2 separate regions of the Homo sapiens genome follow, and region 2 is linked to region 1. The links come from fine-mapping of genetic effects on gene expression. A gene starts in region 1. The other region holds a variant in brackets. All regions are shown on one strand. Distances are from middle to middle.

Region 1 (2,913 bases):
CAGAAGGGACAGACTCCAGACACGCCACCTTAAGAGCTGTAACACTCACCGCGAGGGTCCACGGCTTCATTCTTGAAGTCAGTGAGACCAAGAACCCACCAATTCCGGACACAGTGCTGAGAATCATGCCTTGAAATCTAGCAGCTCTGTTAAAAACTGAGCAAGGTGTACTTCGGGGTTGTGTTGAGAAGGTTGGTGTTCAGCTAAATCAGGAGGGAAGGCCAAGGAAAATCAGGCTTGGCACCTGTCAACAGGTGGGACCCAATAGCCAAGCAAATGGTCCTGCAAACTGTACTACCCAACGTTCACAGCAAGGATTCCAACTTCTCACCAGGGCATGGAAAATTTGCCTTCATGTCAACCACCACCTTAGCCCTTGACTACCCAACGGACTCTTCCCAAGTCAACAGCCACTTCCTCCCTGGGGCTTAACAGGCATTCCTTGAAGCCTGCCCCGGGCAGTTAGTCCTTCCCTTTTGTGTGAACTCTCGGCTGTTTTCGTTGTCTGCACACAGAGCAGTGGTCTAGGGAGCGAAGGGTTTTGGAATGGACCTTTTCCTTTCTTAGCTTGCTGTAGGGATTGTGCTTCAGCTAAGTAAAGTGGAAAAACAGAAGTACAAAAGCAACAGCCCCAGATCTAAGGGCACCGTAGCTCTGGAATCTGGATTTTATTCCAGATTCAACCCTCAGCAGGGAGTTGAAGTGGTCAGCCCTGTGCTTTACAAGGCTGATTGGGCAGCACCCATAGTAGAATTGTCAATATAAAGTAATTGAAAGGATCAGAATCCAGGGTTTTCGTTGTTTTTAAGTTTTTAAGTTTTAAAAACAAAGTTGTTTTTGTTCGTTTTTAAGTTTACTTCTCTTTAATCGGTCTCACTTTATTGACCAGGCTGGTTTCGAACTCCTGGGCTTAAGTGATTTCTCCTGTCTCAGCTTCTCAAAGTGCTGGGATTACAGGCGTGAGCCGCTGCACCCAGCCCAGAATCCAGTTTTAAAGAGTTTATTCAAGCCAAAAGCTGGGAATGGCCATCTGAGAAACACAGACTCTAGGAAAATGGGGCCAGGGCCCTGAAGTTAAAAGTTAAAGTCTTGCTTACATAGGCAGAAAGCAAAGACATTTAGTAACCTTGTAGAACATTTTCTTGTATAACTTTTCTTGTTTTAACTTTCTTGTTTAACATTTTCTATGCAAGGCTGGTTTATGAGTTACAACCTATAATTAATTATAGGTTGTTCCCCTGCCTCCACCTTGTTTTCTTTTCTCTACAGCTTGTTTTCATTTCCTTTCCAATTTAAGAATGTGTTTAACATTCTATCCCAGACAATGTGATGGTCATGAAGTCTCTGTCAGAGAGGAAAGAGGGAGTTAATCTATAATGAAGATCAACAGTGAAGAGGAAAGGGGTCTTCCCTGGAACGCTTCAGTCATATACGACATTTTACACAACAATGTAAGTAAGGAAAAAGGCTAATCTATAATCAGAGAAACAAAGGTTGCAGCTGCCTGTTTACATGACTCAGGTCCCATGATCAAATTCCCTTAAGGCTCGAAATATTTTAAAGTTCCAACAGCTTAGATTTTGAATTGCTTATTTTCACAGAATGGACCTGTGTAAGGAGGTATGTGTGGGAGAAGATTCCAGAAGGTCTTGAGACACTCCAGATGAAGGTTGGTGTGGGGCTGTGCTGCTGGAGCACCAGAGAGTGAAAAGAGGCAAGCGATTTATAGTCTCATCAAATATCGACAAGTTTGGGTTTTCCTTTAGAGTTGGGCAGGGCCTGGCTGGACTTCTTTCTCCACCAGTCTCCGGGAGGCTCAAACAAGTTCTGATTTTCAGGTTCTGAAAAAGCTCTCAGGGAAAAAGCAGCTTCCATTCTGTTTTTTTTCCCTTTCTGCATTCTACTTCCCTTTTATTTTTGGCCTGGTAATTTCTGTCTTATCAGCTTTTAGATGTCCTTGAGATTTTTCTTTTCTTTCATTTTTTTTTTTTTGAGACAGGGTGTAAACCAAAAACTCTTTTATTCTTTTTTTTTTTCTTTTGAGACAGGATGTAAACCAAAAATAAAATTCTAAGCCCCGCCCTCCCTGCAACCATCTGAATGGACTTCCTCCTGGGCCAGGGTACTTTTAACCTGAAAGACTGGTTCAGGCCATGATGGAAAGTAGAGGTCAGACAGGACTCATTATACCTCTCTGATGAGAAGCATTTACAATCTATTTTCTCTGAAGCCTGCTACCCGGAGGCTTCATCTGCATGGTAAAACTTTGGTCTCCACAACCTCCTATCACAGCACAGACATTTTCTTTCTATTGAGCCCAGATCTTTAGATAAACTTAACCAATTGTCAACCAGTCAATTTTAAATCTACCTGTAACCTGGGAGCCCCCAACCTCCACCCAACAATTCAAGTTGTCCCACCTTTCTGGACAGAACCAATGTATTTCTTAAATGTATTTGATTGACATCTCATGTCTCCCTAAAATGTATAAAACCAAGCTGCACCCCGACCACCTTGGGCATAGTTCTCAGGATCTCCTGAGGGCTGTGTTACAGGCCATGGTCACTCATATTTGGCTCAGAATAAATCTCTTCAAATATTTTACAGAGCTTGACTGTTTTTATTTGTTAATGATCTCACTCTATCGTCCAGGCTGGAGTGCAGTGGTGCAATCATGGATTACTGCAGCCTCTACCTCCCTGGGCTCACATGATCCTCCCTTCTCAGCCTCCCAAGTAGCTGAGACTACACACATGCGCCACCATGCCTGGTTAATTTTAAAACTTTTTGTATAGATGGAGGTCTTACTGTGTTGCCCAGGCTGGTCTCAAACTTCTGGCCTCAAGTGATCCTACCACCACAGCCTCCCAAATTGGTGGGATTACAGGGATACGATTTTTATTTTATTTTTAT
Region 2 (2,913 bases), 15 kb after region 1:
CCTATAACTGCAAGTGGTTTCATGACACTGCACATGGGTTCTTATCTGGGGTTGGTAGATTCAACTCAATTCCACAGGTTTACTGGGTGTTGCCTCCCATGCTTGGAGCCAGGAGGATGCAGGGAAATGGGGCTGCCACCATACCCGCTCTTCTTATGATCCCATCACATCATTGCACCCTTTGGGGCCTGGCACCATGCTCTGGCACTTTGCCTCCATCATCTCCTTTAACCTCTGAGCTCTGTCAGGAAGGCATTACTACTATCCCTGGAATACAGACAGGAAAACTGAGTTGGATTGAGGCTCAGAGAGGTTAAGTCACTTACCCAAGGTCACAAAGCTAGAGAGTGGCAGGCCAGCATCCAAGGCCAGCAACACGAGCTCCCTCTGATCCAAATGGTGACTCTATGTTTGATCAGTGCTCTGAGAACTCTCCAAAGATCTTTATCAACTGTCATCTCTTCATTGCCCAGGCCCAGTCAGGGAGCCACTTGGCTGCGGTCCCGCTGAGATTTAGGGGCAGGACCCCTGATGTGAGGTGGAATGCTTGGTCACGCTGTTCAAGCCTCCACCAGTCACTCCTGACTGGTTATGGACACTCAATGTGCCCCGTCCTGTGTGCAATGCAGTGTGGGAAGGGGATCAAGGACCTTGGCTAATCCCAGGCATTTCCCCAGAATGTCCCAGGTGTGGACCCCTTGGGAGGTGCTGGGAAGCAGGCTGGTGTCCCACAGGCCTTGGTTCCATCCCAGCTGTGCTGTGCTAAGCTGAAACTCTTTGGGCAGCTTGTTTCACCTCATGAGACTTCTTTTTCTGAACTGTTAAATGGGATGATTCGACCTCTGCTTGGCTTTTGGTGACGATTAAACGAGATATTAGCTGTAAAGCATTTCATCCCGGGTCTGGTATAGAAGAAGCACTTGATAAATGAAAGCTCTGTTGAGTATGATGATCCGTCACCCCAGGCATCAGTGGGATCTCACAGCAGGAACAATGCCTAACTCCTAACTGATGCCCAGTAAACATCGGGTGGATGCAATGTCCAACAAGACAGATATTCATGTTCAGTTTTACAGAAAAGGAGACAGAGGCCAGAAAAGGAAGAAAGTGCCCAGGTCAGCCGGCTAGTAAGAGGCAGAGTTGAAATTTGAACCGGGTTCTGGCTGGCTGCAGCTCCACTGCTCCACTACTGCACTGTCTGAGAGCCAAAAGGCACCTTGTAGTCAGGCAGGCAGGGAGCTGGCTTCTTGCTGTCCTGCTGGATCCTGCCCTAGTGTGGCCCTCCCTGGAACCAGGGGTGGGGCTGGAGGGCAGGGCACTGAGAGAGA[G/T]CTCCTGGGAACTGTACCATCTGCACAAAGGGCACCTGCTGGGCACTCTGCTGAAAGCTGTCTGCAAACACCACTTCCTGCCTGCCTCCCTGGGGGCTCTAAGCTCAGGAGGGGGTGAGGGCCCATGTCTGCACGTGGTGAGGCCCCTGCTGGGTATTGTACCACACCTTCATTGTGCTCAGGGTGGCCAGTGGAGGCCCTTCCCAGACTCGAGCTCTGGTCACAAGCCCAACCCCCTCCTTGCTCCTGTCTGGGCTCACCTGGAATCTCCTGCCTCACTCTGTGGCCAGAGGCACCTTTGGAAGCCCAGGTCACCCCTACTACTCATGCCCCTCATTTGGAAATTTTCATAATCTACCTCTTGTTAATGATTCCATCCCATCTATAATGCTTTTCTATTTTTCTGAATTTTTCCCCGATAGGCTATAACTGCTGCAAAGATAGAGAATTGCAATGATTAATATGCATTTATGTATTTCCAAAAAGTTACCAGAATATCAAACTCATGATTTTGTCTATAGTTTGGTTAGATTCAAGCTATTTTTATATCATAAAACAACTTAAAATTTTTTTATTTTTAATTTTTGTGGGTGCAGAGTGATGTATTTATGGGGTACCCGAGATGTTAGAATGAAGCTATTAAATGTGAGTGTGAACGTTCACCTTTTTGCAGATCACGGGAATTACAAGTGACATCCTGAAGTATGATCACAAATGTTTCAAATTAAGCCTTCCTGCTAAGTTTCCAGAGGTGTGTGGCTCGGACGAAGTGTTTCCAGACCCTGATCTACTGCATGTCCTGCCTGTTGCTGGTTCTTTGCAGCAGTCCATTGACCAATGCTGTCTACAGCTTGAGAGCCTCTGCAGGCCAGGGCTGCTCTGTGCACATCCTACGTTACTATTCAAACTGCACAGCAGCATGAAAAACAGGCCCTTCTTTTCTCTCATTTACACATATGTGAAGAAGACACAGCAAGTGAGAAAACGTGACCGAAAGCCACGCGGACAGGTGGCCGCAGGGCCAAACCCAACTTCCGTGATGTGATCTGGCTACAGTTTGGAGCCCACATATTTCAATAGTTATCCCCAGGCCTGGCACGTCAAAGAGGCTCCAGAAATGTTTGCTGAGTGAGTGATGAATCAGCAATTTCTGATTTTCTCCTAAACTTAGAGAATAAGTGGCTTGTCTGCAGTCACCCAGGGCGTCCCTGACAGAGGTACAAGTAAAGCCCAGATCTCTGCATCTCTGGTTCAAGGCCTTTTGTACTACACACCGCTGTCTCTTTGTCATCATTAAAAGCAAGGCTCAAGGGACATGTTTTCTAGCCTTAGTTCCCCATCTACAAAATGGGCCTCATGGAATGGAATGTCTCCACTTCACTCCAGCATCAACAAGTGGGGAATTCTGATGGATTCAATTCGACTTCTTTCCATGGGCGTGTTCTAAGCAGCCTCTTTGTTCCAGAAGCTGCCCTCAGCCAGAGTTGGATAAGCCAATCCTCACTCCCCAGCCTCCTCTGGATAGGGATGAAGACCCCACTGGGGTTGGAAGTGCAGAGGCAGACAGGTGTATGGAGTCACCTGT

The links. PIP is the estimated chance that this variant, and not a neighbour inherited with it, causes the effect.
Region 2: its variant is fine-mapped to the expression of TCL6 in whole blood (TOPMed, PIP 0.91).

The regions. Positions count from the first base shown.
Region 1 is chr14:95,650,776-95,653,688 of GRCh38, forward strand. It overlaps TCL6 (T cell leukemia/lymphoma 6), which reads left to right and starts at 1,322. Exons shown (of 8, transcript NR_028288.2): 1 at 1,322-1,451; 2 at 1,602-1,714.
Region 2 is chr14:95,666,125-95,669,037 of GRCh38, forward strand. It overlaps LOC124903372, which reads left to right. Exons shown (of 2, transcript XM_047432042.1): 2 at 2,002-2,913. The coding sequence ends at 2,373. The region is part of intron 4 of TCL6 (T cell leukemia/lymphoma 6); the gene reads left to right. Among named protein-coding and RNA genes, the nearest start is that of TCL6, 15 kb to the left of the region's middle. RefSeq lists an enhancer at 590-1,236. The variant G/T (reference allele first, on the strand shown) is at 1,329.